Regions from separate parts of the Homo sapiens genome. Here region 2 is linked to region 1. The links come from fine-mapping of genetic effects on gene expression. A gene starts in region 1. The other region holds a variant in brackets. All regions are shown on one strand. Distances are between the middles of the regions. Region 1 holds the start of MRAS (muscle RAS oncogene homolog). Region 2 overlaps MRAS (muscle RAS oncogene homolog).

What was found. PIP is the estimated chance that this variant, and not a neighbour inherited with it, causes the effect.
Region 2: its variant is fine-mapped to the expression of MRAS in whole blood (TOPMed, PIP 0.98).

What each region holds. Positions count from the first base shown.
Region 1 is chr3:138,344,324-138,352,657 of GRCh38, reverse strand. It overlaps MRAS (muscle RAS oncogene homolog), which reads right to left and starts at 4,079. Exons shown (of 6, transcript NM_001085049.3): 1 at 3,891-4,079. RefSeq lists an enhancer at 3,612-4,567.
Region 2 is chr3:138,375,974-138,384,307 of GRCh38, reverse strand. All of the region lies in intron 2 of MRAS (muscle RAS oncogene homolog), which reads right to left. Among named protein-coding and RNA genes, the nearest start is that of MRAS, 32 kb to the right of the region's middle. The variant A/G (reference allele first, on the strand shown) is at 3,849.

The sequences.
Region 1 (8,334 bases):
TGAGACTCAGAAGGTCACTTCAGCAACCGGTGATGACCCACATTGTCATGCAGCAGTCCCCACCTAGTGAAGCTACCAAGAATATTAAAGACAATGATAGGGACATTAAGAAGCAAAATACAAAAAATACATTTTTATATATAACATATAACCAAAAAAATCAAATAATAAGGATTGGACTAGAATATAAAAATATTTTTTAATATAACAACAACAAAAAGAAGCAAAATACACATTGCTGCTTCATGACTCCTACAAGAGGAATGCCTGCAGAAAGCTGTCTTAGATCATGCTGGCCAGCTAAATGGCCCTAGGGGCTCAGTGCTGGGGGCCAGGGCAAGGAGGGCCAGGGTGGAGTCTCTGGGAATAGGTGGAACCAACTGCATCACACAGGTAGCGGGAATGCTTCCTAGAGAACAAGAGATGGGGCACCATTGAATGCATGGCGAGTGCAGCGTGGTCTCCACCTCAGCCTGAACCTCATCACCTCTGCGGAAGCATGAGGCAGTGCCAGCACTGCCCTCTTTGTCAGACCCACTGGCTGACTGCACAGACTTCAACTCACAGGCTGGGCAATGACAACTGTCCCACTCTATTTGTACTCTTGGCCCCCATCTCTGCCCTCTCACACTGCACTGGAATGGCATGCTGACTTGGCTGCACAATGGGCTTACAGAATAGGTCTGCCATGAACATTAGAGAAGTCACGTGCCTTTAGATCAGAGATGGCTAAACTGGGATCCAGGGCTGGTTTTCAGAGATCCATGAATCCCCTGAATTATATGTCCAACTTTGTACATCAACGTTCCCTGGGCTTCTCATCAACATATTAAAGAGGCTGTGACTCAAGAAGACAAAACCTATTACTCTGAACTCCAGACACTCAGCCTTTATGGCTACCTGTCCCATGCAGGAACTTGCTGGAAGTGGCACTGATATCCCATTCCTGTGTACAGAGACCTTCCAAGAGCAGAGAGCATCTTTGGGAGATCTGAGCTCTGCTTAATCTTACTTACTGTTATTTGGGTTTTGTTACTTGCAGCCAAAGCATCCCCATTGATTCAGTACTACAGGGCTCAGAGGCATGATCTAAGACTTAGGAGGGCTGACAGGGACTCAGAGTCCAGCAAGAAAATTCCTCTTAAAGCTTGAATTCTCTGCTGAGTCCCTAGACAATGGGTACCTGCCAGGTGTCCCAGGTCTCAGGGAACTCCTCCAGCTCCTTTTTTACCTGTCTCCAGATAAAGGTGACTGTACCTTCTATGCCTGCCCAGGGCCTGGCAGGTACAGAGCCTCTGGAACTCAATGCACATCCTCTGGACACTTAAGAACATTCCAGCATTGCACAAGAATGCATTCCCATTCAGTTCACATGAGTATGCTTGTACAAACTACACAATGCTCATGAGCAGGTATGTTTTTCAATTGCTTTCAGGGAGACACACTCTGTTTGGGGGCATTTCATTGGCAGAACAGATTACAATGGTTAAATCTGATGTGAAATATATTATGGAAGCCACATTTCCCTGAGAACTCACTAGATCCAGGAGGCTGGTCAACATGTGATTCTGACTGAGGTTAGGACCAGTCATCCCAGGAGCCTAATTTATCAGAGGCCAATAGTCATTCCTGGTTCCAGGTGATCACTAGAGCTTAGGAACCAAACCAACCCCAAGGGTAACTGACTTGTCACTTTTTTTTTTTTTTTTTTTTTTGAGACAGGGTCTTGCTCTGTCACCCAAGCTGGAGTGCAGTGGCGTGATCATGGCTCACTCCAACCTCTGCCTTCTGGGCTTAAGCAATCCTCCCACCTCAGCCTCCCAAGTAGCTAAGACTACAGGTGCATGCCACCAGGCCCAGCTAATTTTTGTAGAGACGGAGTTTCACCATGTTGCCCTGGCTGGACTTGTCACTTTATAAGTAGCTCAGACGAACTGAGTATGAAATACCAGTGGCTAGAGCTAATAATAACATAAAAGTTAAACCTGTCATAAAGTGTCTTATGTAGGTGAAAACAGAGGTGGAAATTAGCAACTGTCTTATGGAGGAGCGAAGCTGACAACGCTGGAGACAATCGCTTGCTTCACCAAAGGGCCTTGACTACCGCCTACCCCAGTCCCGCCCCCAGCTTTAGGAAATGCCGAGGTCACATCTAGGGGGTCAGTTTCCACCAGAGCACGAGGCTTGCCCAACACCTCCCTCCCCAGAGGCTGGCAGACCTCAAAAACCCCAGAGCATGAAAGCCCCATGCCTCCCACCCCGGCAGAAAAAGGACAAACTACACCATAAACTACAGAGAGAAGCTAACTGGCTGCTGGGCAGTGTGAACAGACCTAAGGGTGAAAACCATTGCCCGAAACATTTTCAGCCCCACTCAGCAGGGACATGTGATTTACAGGAAATTAGGAGGTTTACAAAATGTTAGCAGCTCAAGTTTCTTCCCCGGGAAAAGAAGCAGGAGAAGCTCTAAGAACCGTATCCGAGAAAGTGCTTTGTTCACTGCTAAGCTTCTGACACGAGTCAGTTATTAATACCCACAGCTCACTGCCTCACACTTCAACCCACCAGTGAATGTCTATAGTGAATAATTATAAAACAATATATTACAAAACTCTAACACAGGCTGCACCAGAGCCTTCCGAAGCCCAGGACAGCCACGTGGCCAAAAGCATGGACTTCAGATATGATCTTGGGCAAGCTGTTGGCTCTTTTTCACCCCAGTTCCTCCATCCTTTACAATAAACAAAATCCTTCTGGAGGTGTCTTGTCAAGAGGTGTCTTGTCAAATGATGAGCAAATCCACTTCAAGTGCCTGGTCTTTGGAAGCCCTGTTGGTTGCTGTTATTACAGTGGAGTTTCAGAGCTCTTAAAGTCATATCTCCATCTTACTTCTGCTGCCAGACAAACCTCTGGAGGCCACGATTCCGAGCCTTGTCAGCCACCCTCTCTGGTCAGGTCCAGGACAGAGTGAGTCCTAGAGGAGCAAGGCCAGGGAGGTTCCACACCATCAGGGGCCATTGGGGAGTAGGGGCAATGGCAGAGCTCTATGATCAAGGCCCCAGTGGCCTTGATGGACTCTGTCCACCTCTCCAGACTCCACTTTGCCCCAGGCCAGAACAGACCTCAGCTCTAGCCAGAGTCTAACTGGGTGTCCAGTGTATACGCTGCGGCCAGCCAGACATTAACTCCTCTAGGCGGCCTTCTCTCACCTCCCACTCTGCAGTAGGGACCCCTAGGGGCTCCCACAACCCCTGGGCTTACCGAATCTCAGCACTTACCACACTGGCTTGTCACTTTGTGCTCTTGTCTTCCCCGCAGGGCAGGACTGGCACCGTGTCTGATGCCTCAGCCAGATCAGTTCAATGCATGAGCCCAGGCCCTAGTTGTGACCACAGCTCCAGCTCCCCAAACCTCCGGGGGCAGTGAAGGGTTGTTTATGAAGCAGGCTGCGTTTTATTATTCAGATGAATTTGTCAACTCCCTGGCGGATCCCTCCCCTCGTTAACGCCATCTTAAGGCGGGGGGGTAAAGAGTCCCCCACCCACCCACCCATCCCCCGCCGCCCCGTCCTGCCGCCCATCTATCCACCGGGTTCTCGCCCAGGCAGCCAAGGAACTGTAATTACCATGAAAGGGTCTCTCTGAGCGGCGCGCAGGCCCTCCCCACTGGGGTCTTGGTCGTGGCCGATTTCACGAACGCACACCGTTACGCGGGAGCCCGCGATGGGGGCAAAACGCCACGCACAGCCGGTCCCAGGGCGCACCCCGCAAGCGGAGAGCGCGGCCGAGCCCGGAGGGCGGCCACACCTCCCGCCCCGGAACAAAGCGACGGCCGGGGCGAGAGGCGGCGCGGCCGGGCCCCCTCCCCTCCAAGGCCGCCCGACCACTCACCGCGCGCTCCAGCCCCGGCTCGGCTACGGCACTCAGGCCGCCCCCTCCTAGCCTGCGCCGGTGAGGAGGCAGCGTCGCGCCCGCCGGGCCCCGCGGCCGCCGGACTGACGGCTCCCCGCCAGCCGGCCACTCCGGTCCGTCCCCGCCCCGGCGCCTCCTTAAAGCGACCGCGCCGCCAGCGTGCGCCCCGAGCGCCTAGCGCGCCGCGCATTCCTTATATTGCCACAGCGCCTGCTAAAAATAGAGCGCCGCTGCGGGCGCGCCAGTGGGGAGCCCGGGCCGGGTGCCTCGACCCTGTCGCCCCCGCGTGCACCCCGGCCCCCAGGACGCGCGCCTACGAAGTCCAGCCCACCCGCGCCGAGTCCCCTGGGCCCGGCAGGGCGCGCTAGAGCGCCAGGGGCTGGGGTCGGCGCCGCAGCCTCTCCCGCGGCCCAGCACTTACCCGGGTCAGATCCGTGGTGCCGGGGAGCTGGCTTTAAGGTGGACGCCGAGTGGGAATTCGACTCGGCCTCTTTAAGAGCCTCTGCGCTCCAACCTTTAAATCTCCGCTCCGGCCGGGCCAACTTCTGAGCCTAGGGACGCCTCCCCAGTCCTAGGCGAACCTCCGCCGCCACCTTAGCTGCATTCCCTTCGAATCCTGAGACGTCTTTCTTCCAGATCATGCCCCAGCGTCTCTCCCCGCAGGCCTTCTGGGTGCACCGTTCCAGGGCCCAAACTTCGTTGGGATGGATGCGACGGGGACAGGCGACACTCGCGCACCATTTCATTGTTTCAGTTCCGCTAACTCCTCTCCAGCGGCGTCATTTTCCCCCCGTTAAAAAAATAAAGATATAATTCAACACCATAAAATTCCACCTTTTGAAGTGTACAATTCAAGCCGGGCGCGGTGGCTCACGCCTGTAATCCTAACACTTTGGGAGGCCGAGGCGGGTGAATCGCCTGAGGTCAGGAGTTCAAGACCAGCCTAGGCAACATGGTGAAACCCCGTCTCTACTAAAAATACAAAAGTCAACCCGGCATGGCGGCACGTGCCTGTGATCTCATCTACTCGGGAGGCTGAGGCAGGAGAATCACGTGAACCCGGGAGGCAGAGGTTGTAGTGAGCCGAGATTGCGCTACTGCACTCTAGCCTGGGCAACAGAGTGAGACGCTGTCTCAAAAAAAAAAAAGTGTACGATTCAGTGGTGTTTAGCATATTCACAAAGTTTTGCAACCATCACCATGAGCTAATTCCAGAACATTTTCACCACTTCCCACTCCCCTCCCCTGCCCCTCACAAAAAGAACTACCCGTTAGCAGTCACTCCTCATTCACCCCTTTCCTCCGCCTCTGGGAACCACTAATCTACTTTCAATCTCTATGGATTTCCCTATTCAGGACATTTTCTATAAACGGAATCATACAACATGTGGCCTTTTGTGACTATGACTAGCTTCTTTCAGTAACCAATGTTTAATGATCTATTCATGTTGTAACATGTAGCAGTACTTCATTCCTTTTCATGACTGAGTAATATTTCACTGTATGTCTATACGTTTTGTTTATCCCTGCATCACTTGATGGATATTTAGTTTTCTGCTTTGGGGCTACTGTGAATAAAGCTGCTATGAATATTCATGTACAAGTCTTTGTATGAACATATGCTTTTCTTTCTCTTGGGTATATACCTAAGAGTGGAATTCCTGGATCATATGTTAACTCCATGTTTAACTTTTGGGGGAACTGCCAAACTGTTTTCCAAAGCAGCTGCACCATTTTACATTCCCACCAACAACATATGAGGGTTCCAATATCTCCACATCTTTGCAAACACTTGTAATTGTGTGTCTTTTTTTATTCTAGTCATCCTATTGGGGGCGAAATGGCATTTCATTGTGGTTTTGATTGTCAGCATCATTTCTGAGGACATTCTTTTTCTGGGTGGACCTCAATGACTTAGAACCAGCTTTACATGTCCAGGGAACCCACTCCCTTCTCAGGTTTGCCCCAGGCCTAAGGGAGCCTCACAGTGCTGCTGGCTCTGCCTGCCATGCTGAGGCTCTTAATCCCATGCAGGCTTCCTTTGGCATCCCAGCCACCCATGCAGCCATTTGGTGGGAGCTGCTGTGCACCCCCTGTGCCTCCACTCCCACCTGCTGCTCCAAAGACCCTGTAGACCCCAAGTGTCCCCCAGGAAGGGGACAGCAGGTTGGGTGCCATCAAGAGTATCTCTCCTTGGCAGTAGGGAGTAAAAGACCTGGTTGGGGAGAAGGCTTGAGGGACAGTAGTTTACCTCGACTGTCTAGGTTTGCCCTGGAACCTGACTCCCTCAACCCCCTCTATTTACCACAGAACTTGGGAAGGCGGGCAGGGATCTGTACATCCTGGTGGCCTGTCAGCCCCTCGTGGGCTCCCCATGTAAGAGATGTCCTCTCTTGGGCCCTGACTGGCACAAGACCCTGACCATGCCCTCAGCTTGAGCTGAGCCAACATCTATGCAAGAGTCAAAGAGATGTCTTTATACTGCTTTTATACACATATCTGTAATAATACCTCTTCTCAGAAATGGAACTTAAACAGCTAATAGTCATACCCAGGTACCTGGGATTCTCCTTTTTTTTTTTTTTTTTTTTTTTTTTTTTTGAGACAGAGTCTCGCTCTGTCACCCAGGCTATAATGCAGTCGCATGATCATAGCATCATAGCTCACTGCAGCCTCGACCTCCCGGACTCAAGACATCTTCTTACCTCAGCATCCTGAGTAGCTGGGACTATAGGTGTGCACCACCATGCCTGGCTACTTCTTGTACTTTTTGTAGAGATGTTCCCGAGGCTGATCTCGAACTCCTGGGACTCAAGCAATCCACCTATCTGGGTCTCCCAAAGTGCTGGGATTACAAGTGTGAGACACTGTGCTTGACCTACCTAAGATTGCCTAATGGTGAGAGTAAATCTTGCAGATTGCGATTGCGGATGGGCTGTTCCATTTGAGCTGCCTCCTCTGCTCTTTGAACCTTGAAATACAAGTTGTGGCTCAGTTGCTGGCAAATGGGGGCTTAGAGAACAGAGCCACTGAGCAGAAAAGCTTCATTCATCCAGTAAACACTGCCAGAGCATCTACTGAGTACCGGGCACTGGGGCAGAGACCTGCCTTCAAGCAAGCTGAGTGCCAACTGAGGAGCAAGTGGTGTGGAACAGAGAAGCACAGGGACTGTGGAAGACCAGAGGAAGGGCACCTAATCCAATATGGCGAGGAGGCAAGTGCCAAGGGAAGGACTTCTGTGAGAGCTGATGACTGAGCCACATCTGGAAGGACAAATAACAATTAGCTAGGGCCGGGTGTGGTGGCTCATGCCTGTAATCCCAGCACTTTGAGAGGCCAAGGCAGGCAGATCACAAGGTCAGGAGTTCAAGACCAACCTGGCCAATATGGTGAAACCCCGTCTCTACTAAAAAAAAAACAAAAATTAGCCAGGTGTGGTGGCGGGTGCCTGTAGTCCCAGCTACTAGAGAGGCTGAGGCAGGAGAATTGCTTGAACCCGGGAGGCGAAAGTTGCAGTGAGCTGAGATCCTGCCACTGCACTCCAGCCTGGGGGACAGAGTGAAACTCCATCTCAAAAAACAAAAATTAGCTAGGCTGAGAAGGGAAGGAGAAAACCTTATATGCTGAAGGATGATTGAGCAGAAGTCTTTCCAAAGTCTCTGGCAGATGTGCCTGGCTGATCAGGTGTGTTTGAGGCATGGCAGAAGGCCAGACACCTAGCCAAAAACCCAGGCAAGGCTCAGGCCCAAATTTAATCCACAGAGGTCCAAGGTCAGACACAGGGCCAGGAGCCAATTTCTGGCTAAAGTCAGAGCCACTGAACTGACCCAGAGCAGGACAAAACAAACATACTTCATCCACTGCAACATGTCCTACACTTGCCTCTCTGCCCTGAGGCTTGCTGAGTGCCATGCCTCAGAGCCAATCCAAACTGGTGCCTAGTTCAGCAGCAAACGTGGGGGCTTGGGACCTTGGGGCTGGAAGTCAACCAGGTCATTGTGGCCCAGCCTTCCTCTAGAACTCCCAGCTTCAGGCCAGACGCGGTGGCTCACATCTGTAATCCCAGCACTTTGGGAGGCCGAGTCAGGTGGATCACCTCAGGTCAGGAGTTTGAGACCAGCCTGACCAACATGGTGAAACCCCACCTCTACTAAAAACACAAAATTAGCCAAACATGGTGGCGCATGCCTGTAATGCCATCTACTTGGGAGGCTGAGGCAGGAGAATCACTTGAACCCAGAAGGTGGAGGTTGCAGTGGGCCGAGATCGCACCATTGCACTCCAGCCTGGGCAACAAGGGTGAAACTCTGTCTCAAAAACAAACAAACAAACAAACAAACAAAAAACCTCCCAACTTCAGTGTATTCCCTAAGGGTAAAAGAAGCCGTGAGTTTCTGAGCACTCACAGCGTGCCTGACACCAG
Region 2 (8,334 bases), 32 kb before region 1:
CGTTCACACCAGAGCCAGAGTGAGCTCTTCTCACTCGCCAGGCCAGGAGCGCAGCAGGATAAGGAACTGAGAAGTATCCACGTTTTAAACATGTTAGATCATGTCCTTCCTCTGCTCAAAATCCTCCAATGGCTTCTCATTTACCTACAAAACCCTGTGAGATCAATCCCTTCCAGCTACCTGCCTGACCTCTCTCCTACTAGCTGTGCTCTCACTTGTTCCACACGCTGGCTTCCTAGCTATTCCCCACACAGGCCAGGCACACCCCTGCCTCGGGGCCCTTGCACCTGATACTCCCACTGACTGAGATTCTCTTCCAGATACAGGTGCAGCTTTCTCTTTTAGGTATCTGCTCCAACATTCCCTTATCAGGAAAGCCCTCCTTGACCAGCCAACACAAGACCGTAACCACTTCCCCACTGTGACTCCCTTACCTTGTCTGACCTTCATCACAGCACTTATCACCACCTGACACCATACATATTTGTTTATGCTCTGTCCCCTCACCCCACTAAAATATAAGCTTCATGAGAGCAGGGGCTTTGATTTGCCAATTGCTATGTCCTCAGAGCCCAAAAGAGAGATGGGTACATTAGCAATTATTTGCAGAAGGAATTAGTGAACATATCCAGGTACATAGGACTCAGGGTTCAATTCACACAACTCTGGGCGGAGAGGTATATCCCTAAGTCAGGGGCTCAAGCCTCACTCCTGAACCTCCCTAGACACAGGGACATGTGTCAGTGGCCCCTCATCCATACAGGTGATGGGACCTATTCTTGAAACCATCAAGCCACCTCATAAATAATATAAACCAGACACAGTGGCTCACATCTGTAATCCTAGTGCTTTAGGAGGCCAAGGTGGGCGGATCACTTAAACCCAGGAGTTCAAGGCTGCAGTAAGCTATGATCATGCCACTGCACTCTAGCCTGGGTGGCACGGTGAGACCCTGTGTCTAAAAATAACAATAAAAACAACAATAATATATATCACATTAAAGCAATCACTGCAACAATAGCATCTACTGAGGTCTGCTATGTGCCAAGCCCTTGCAAGGTGACTTGTTTCCCCCCTCACTCAATAAACAATAATTAAACACCTAATAGATGCCAAGTCTGGGCTGACATCAGAGATACAATGGTGGGCACAGTCCTTTTCCTCAAGGAACTCACAATTTGTATTTTTTTCATTTATCCTTTGCAACAACTATGAGGTGTATCTCATTTGGATACAGATCCCACTGATGAGGGTGCAAGGTCTTTGTCCAGAGGCAGCCCAAAGGGAGGAGGAGCCCCAGTCACCGGAGCCAGGGTGTGGGGAGCACAGGCTGATAGAGGCAACACTGAGGCCCAGGGAAGGTGGCATCACCCAACACAATGGCAGACAGGGGAGGTCTCAGATCTATTGGTCAGGCTGGTGTGCTTGGCCCAAACTGGTCACATGACTTCTAACAGGGACCAACATGAAGTTCTGAAACTCAGGCAAAACCCCACATTAACTGGCATATATGACCTGATTGTCAGCAAGGAAAGTGGAAAAACACTTGGATTTTGGGATGCTGACAAATCTGGAACGAGCCCAGGCTGTGCTAAGAGTTGGGTGTAGGGAGTTGCATATTCCACTCACACCTTCATCACTGAGTCCAAGCCTCACTGAGCTGACTCTAGGTCAGTGGCTGGAGAGGGGTCCTTCAGCTCCCAGCCTGGCTAGTGGGTCTGGGAAGGGCCCCTCGGGTGCAGGGCAGCAGCAGCAGCAATTTTCCAGTGGTAGAGAGTACTTCACTATTTTACCAACTAGTACAGCAGTACTGAGGTACACTGGCTGCAGAGCAGCTGCGCTCACCTGGAAAGTGATTTACTCTCACTTGACTAATCTCAATTTCACAGAATTGTCACAAGGATGAAATAAGGCATCCTTGTAAAAGCCCTTAGCATGAGGCCTTCAAGAAAAGTCTGGTTGGTAGTAACTGCTACCACCGCTCTGAGGACAGACAGCAAGAGAGGATTTGGGAAGAGATGTGTCAGCAATGTGAGGAAGGGCTTTCTACCAGAGAGCACTGCCCTGGGCACCATGGAGATCAGTGAGGCATTTCAGCAGCATGGCTGATGCAGCAGGGACAAAGGGTCAGGCCCAGGCCTGCAGGGCTGGATTGCATAATCTCAGGCCAGCAGCCATGCTTCCCTATGAAGGGAAAGAGGGAAATTCCTCCCACATCACTGCTGGCAGGGGAAGGGCAGCTTCCCCTTGGTGGGTGACAGGCCAGCTCTGCCTGCACCCCATTCTTAGTTGGGGCCTATGGAGAGTGCCCACTCTGAAGCTGGCCTAAGGCCTGCTGAGCATAAAGCCCCCTGGTAAAGCCCCTGGTTCAGGAAAAAAAAACTCAGTAAACGTTCCTTTTCCTCTCCCTGCCCTTCAAATGTCCTCCTCTCCTCCTCGTCCCCAGAAAGAATGTGGATTCAAGTGTGTGGGGGAAAAGCCAGGTTCAGGCCCCTCTGAGAAGACAACAGCACTTGTGTCTGAGGTTTGGGCAGAAGCCAGGGTGGAAATGTCCCAGCTTCTGATGGTGCAGGAGAAGAGCCAGGCTTTTGCTCTTTGAAAACACTGGGCACTTGCTGGGGAGTCGGAGACAGAGAGGTTGCGGAGCTGGGCCCAAGAACCCCAAGGTAGGAAGCAGTGTCTGGAGACTCAGGGCCCACTGCTGTTCTCCACCGATGGAAGAAAGATGCAAAGTTCCAGAGGCTGGCTGGGCAGAGGGCGGGGCTGGGAGCCAGAGGGTGGGGAGGCCCAGAGACATCTGCCCTGTTGTAAGTGAGGAGAGGATTTGGTCAGCATCCCACCTTAAAGGCCCAAGGCCTGGGCCAAAGCAGGAGGTAGTGGGACAGGGTGGAGGACACGCTCGGCAGAGTCAAGAAGCCCAAAACCTGGCTCTCCAGCTAGCTAGGTCTCACCCTAGACTAGTGACCTCTCCATCTGTACCTCAGTTTCCACAATTGTAAAGTGAGGGGCTTAGCAGCCTTCCATCCCTAACCAACAGAAAAAATAGGCACACAAGAACTCTAAGACGAAAGAAGGAAAGCAGGGACTCAGATATTTATATACCATGCTCATAGCAGCGTTATTCATAACAGCAAAAAGGTGGAAACCACCCAAGTGTCCATCCACAGATGAACAGATAATGAAAACATGGTACATCCATACAGTGGAATATCATTCAGCTTTAAAACGGAGAGAAGGCCGGGCGTGGCGGCTCATGCCTGTAAACCCAACACTTTGGGAGGCCGAGGCGGGTGGATCACGAGGTCAAGAGATTGAGACCATGCTGGCCAGCATGGTGAAAATGCTACCAGTCTCTACTAAAAATACAAAAATTAGCTGGGTGTGGTGGCACGTGCCTATAGTCCCAGCTACTCGGAAGACTGAGGCAGGAGAATCACTTGAACCCGGGAGGCGGAGGCTGCAGTGAGCCGAGATCACACCACTGCACTCCAGCCTGGCGACAGAGCGAGACACCGTCTCAAAAAAAAAAGAAAAAAAAAGGAAAGAAATTCAGAACATGCAGCAACATGGATGAACCTTGAATAGATTGTACTAATTAAAATAAGCCAGCCACATAAAAGGACAAATATTATTCCACTTATCATAGCACTCAAATGAGGTATCTAGATTAGTTAAATACATAGAGACAGAAAGTAGAAGCCGGGCGCGGTGGCTCACGCCTATAATCCCAGCACTTTAGGAGGCCGAGGTGGGTGGATCACCTGAGGCCAGGAGTTCGAGATCAGCCTGGCCAACACGGAAACCCCATCCCTACTAAAAATACAAAAATTAGCCAGGCGTGGTGGTGC[A/G]CGCCTGTAATCCCAGCTCCTCAGGAGGGTGAGGCAGGATAATCACTTGAACTCAGAAAGCGGAGGTTGCAGTGAACCGAGATCGCACCACTGCATTCCGGCCTGGGTGACAGAGTGAGACCTCATTTCAGAAAAAAAAAAGAAAGTAGAATGGTGGTTGCCAAGGACTGAGGAGAGGGGAAAATGGGGACTTAGTGTTTAAGGGGCAAGGGATTAATAACCTGAATATATAAGAAACTCAAACAACTCATTAGCAAAATAAAATAAAATTCTGATTTAAAGGGCAAAAGACCTGAATAGGCATTTCTCAGAGACAAACAAATGGATAGCAGGTATATGAAAAAATTATCAACATCGCTAATCATCAGAGAAATGCAAATCAAAACTACAATGAAATGCAAATCAAAACTACAATGAGATAACATCTCACCCCAGTTACAATGGCTATTATCAAAAAGACAAAAAATAACAAATGCTAGGGAAGATGTGGAGAAAAGAGAATGTTTGGATACTGCTGGTGGGAATATAAACTAGTATAGCCACTATGGAAAATGGTATGGAGATCCCTCAAAAAACTAAAAATAGAGCTACCATATGGTCCAGCAATCCTACTGCTGAGTATACACTCAAAGGAAAGGAAATCAGTATATTGAAGTGATACCTGCACTCCCATGTTTATCATAGCGCTAGTCACAATAGCCAAGAGTAAGGAAGCAACCTAAGTGCCTTTCAATGAATGAATGATAAAGAAAATGTAGCATATATACACAATAGAATATTATTCATCCATAACAAAGAATGAGGCTGGGCGCAGTGGCTCATGCCTGTAATGCCAGCACTTTGGGAGGCCGAGGTGGGCAGATCACCTGAGGTCAGGAGTTCGAGACCAACCTAGCCAAGATGGTGAAACCCCATCTCTACTAAAAATACAAAAATTAGCCGAGCGTGTTGGCAGGTGCCTGTAATTTCAGCTACTTGGGAGGCTTAGGCAGGAGAATTGCTTGAACCCGGGAGGGGGAGGTTGCAGTGATCGTGCCACTGAACTCTAGTCTGCCCAACAAGTGTGAGACTCCGTCTCAAAAAAAAAAAAAAAAAAAAAAAAGACATTCTGTCATTTGCAGCAACATGGATGGAACTGGAGGTCATTATGTTAAGTGAAACAAGCCAGGCACAGAAAGACAAATATTGCATGCTCTCACTGATATGTGGGAGCTAAAACAGTGGATTTCATGGAGGTAGAGAGTGGAATGATTGACATCAAAGGCTGGGAAGGGTGTGTGGGTGGGGGGATGAAGAGAAGTTGGTTAATGGGTACAGAAATACAAAGAGAAGGAATAAGTTCTAGTATTTGATAGCACAGTAGGGAAATTATAGTTAACAATAATTCATTGCAAATTTCAAAATAGCTAGAAGAGAAGAATTGTAATGTTCCCAATACAAAGAAAGAATGTTTGAGGTGATGGATATGCTAATTACCTGGATTTGATCATTACCATGCCCTCAAAATATGTATGAATATGATATCAATAAAAGAAAAGGGAGCAAGCAGAATAGTGGTTGCCAGGGACTGAGGAGAGGGGAGAATGGGGAGTCAGTGTTTAATAGGTACAGAGTTTCAGTTGAGGAAGGTGAAAAGGTTCTGGAGATGAATGGCAGGGATGGTTGTAGAACAAAGTGAATGCACTATGCACTTAGAGATGGTTAAGATGGTAACTTTTATGTTATGTACACTTTATCACAATAAAACAAACAAACACAAAACTCTATGGCTCTGCCGAAGGTTTGGGGCTTCCTGATTCATGACAAGAGAGAATTGGGGTGAGGGCAGTCACACAGCTGAAAGCCAAGGTGAGGTGGTGTTCCAAAGTCAGAGACAGGAGGAGAGGGCTGAGAGCATGGAGATGGGACAGCCGAAGCAAACCCCACAGTGGAGAAGCAGGGACCAGACGGGGAGGAAGAGAGGCTCCGAGGGTTGGGCCCTTGACAATATAAAGTGAGATGAGGATCCCGAACCCTTGCAGGAAAGAACTCAGAGCAGGCTTGCTCCAAAGCCTGGGGGTCCCACAGCCACAGGAGAGCCTGGCTGCTGGCCCCTGAGGCCAGCCAGCTCTTGTCTCTTAGGTTCTGGGAGGACACAGGCAATGTGACTTCCTGGAAGAAAACAAGAAACAGGTTTGCAAGAAAGCAGGCAGCCTGTGAGAATAATCAGTGTGGAAGTCACAGAGAAGGCTTCCTTAAGCAGCTTGCAAATCTCTGACGTGAGACTGAGATCACAACCGGAGCACCTGGTTCTCTGAAGGACCCTGGGTGAGGAGTAAGAAGGGCAGAAGAGGTATGATAGTTCAGCCACACCCACTTCTTCCTGGGACTTCAGCTCCCCTTCCCAGAGGCACAAGGATCCACTGTGCTGTGGGGGAGGATTTTCCTACACAACCAGACTGACAGTGGGTAGGAGTCAACAGGTAGCTCAAACTGTTGCTGGTTGTGTGAAACTTTTGCTGTATTTTCTTCAACTATAAAACAGAAATAACAACAGCAACTACCACGATAGCATTTGTAAGGATTCAAAGACAGCAAATGCAATGTGCTTAGCACGGGCCTTCCACACAGTTTCTGCCCATTCAATACCCCGTCATCAAAATTATCATTCTCTTCCTTCTCCTCATCATCGTGCTGCCACGTTTTTATTCTTTCTGAGTTTGGAAGAAGAGAAACTGCAGAGTTGAGATCCCCTGGAGTTCAGTGGGGTACAGGGCAACTGAGGGCACCTCCAGGCTTAGCACCTCCCCGAAGATGGCATGGCCTCAGGGGAGCAGGACCCCTGGGATCCAGATGCCCAGGGAAGTCCTGGCCATCTGAGGGGTGCAGACCACTCCAGAAAAGTTCAGCCCCAGAAAGGTTCAGAGTTACTCACTGCAACCTCCGCCTCCTGGGTTCAGGCAATTCTCCTGCCTCAGGCTCCCGAGTAGCTGAGATGACAGGCGCCACCAGGCCTGGCTAATTTTTTTTGTATTTTTAGTAGAAGCGGGGTTTCACTATGTTGGTCAGGCTGGTCTCAAACTCCTGACCTCGTGATCCACCCACCTCGGCCTCACAAAGTGGTGGGATTACAGGCGTGAGCCACCGCACCCGGCCAAGTCTTCCTTTTCTTAATAGCAGATCTAATGGAGTGGAGAAGCATCTAATCTGGGAATCTGGTGTCTATTCCCGAGGAAGGCCTGGGTGGGCAATGCCCTAAATCGGGCCTGACTCTGGTGGCAGAATTAGAAGCTTAACAAACTCATTCTTCTAAAGTAATGCCATGGAGAGCCCAGGCATTCAGAACACAGGCTTTGCAAATGCACACTTCTAATATAATGCTGCGGCCATGTTTCCCCTCTCCCTGCTGCTCCTGCTATAAATGTTGAGGAAAACATTCAATCTTGAGGAAAACATTTTTCCTCAGAAACCAATTTAACATCCAAAGGTACTCAGGAAAAAGTCAGAGAAGTTTATATGGCTGTAGAGAGAAATACTGATTGAGTTCCAACGATGTACCAGGCATGGTGTTACTTTCTTACATGCATTATGCAATGTGTTTCAGAATGTTCTCTATGGAACATAGTTCAGAATCACGTGCAAAAAATGACCCCTGTGGGAAGCTCTAAGGACAATGTATCCTATCACTACACCTCTAATATGTGTTTGCATGTTAAAAGTTCTTGTAAGTCCTGCAGTGAAGAAACTTGTTTACATTTATTTAACTCAGTATATCCCAAAGTGTGCCATATATTCCAATAGGTGATGCATGAAATGATTTTAGAAAGTGCACAGATGTAAGTTTTAATTTTAATAGTTATATATACTTATTATTGTAATGTGAGTTAGAAAAAAATAATATAGCTAGCACATCAAACCTTTCACTACACATATATTGTTCAAGGTTTATTCTTTCATTTGGTCATTCCACAAATGTTTACTGGGGAGCTACTATGAGCCAAGCAGTATTCTAGATGCTAGGAATAATGCAGTCAGTAAATAAAGTCCCTGCTCTCAGACATTTATATTTTAGTCAGCAGAGACAAAAACACAAACAAAGATAAAATATGTCCAACCATAAAAGGCAGAATAAAGAAGAACAGAGTTGGGCATAGAAATGACTGGGGTGGGGTGGATACTAGTGTCAATGGTTTGGTCAGGGAAGACCTCTTAGATAAAGTGACATTTGAGCTGAGACCTAAATGAAATCAGTGTTTCTGCAGGAACAATGTTCTAGGCAGAGAGAAGACAAAATGCAAAGTCCCAAGATGGGAAGGTGCTTGGTACCTGTTCAAATTGTTCAAAGTCCCAGGGCTGCAGACAAACCCTTGGAGGACGGTGCTTTTTAAAATTGAGATACAATCTACATGCCATAATATTAATACTTTAAAAGTATATAATTCAGTGCTTTTAAAACATATTTACAAAGTTTTTTTGTTTTGTTTTGTTTTTTTGAGAGGGAGTCTCA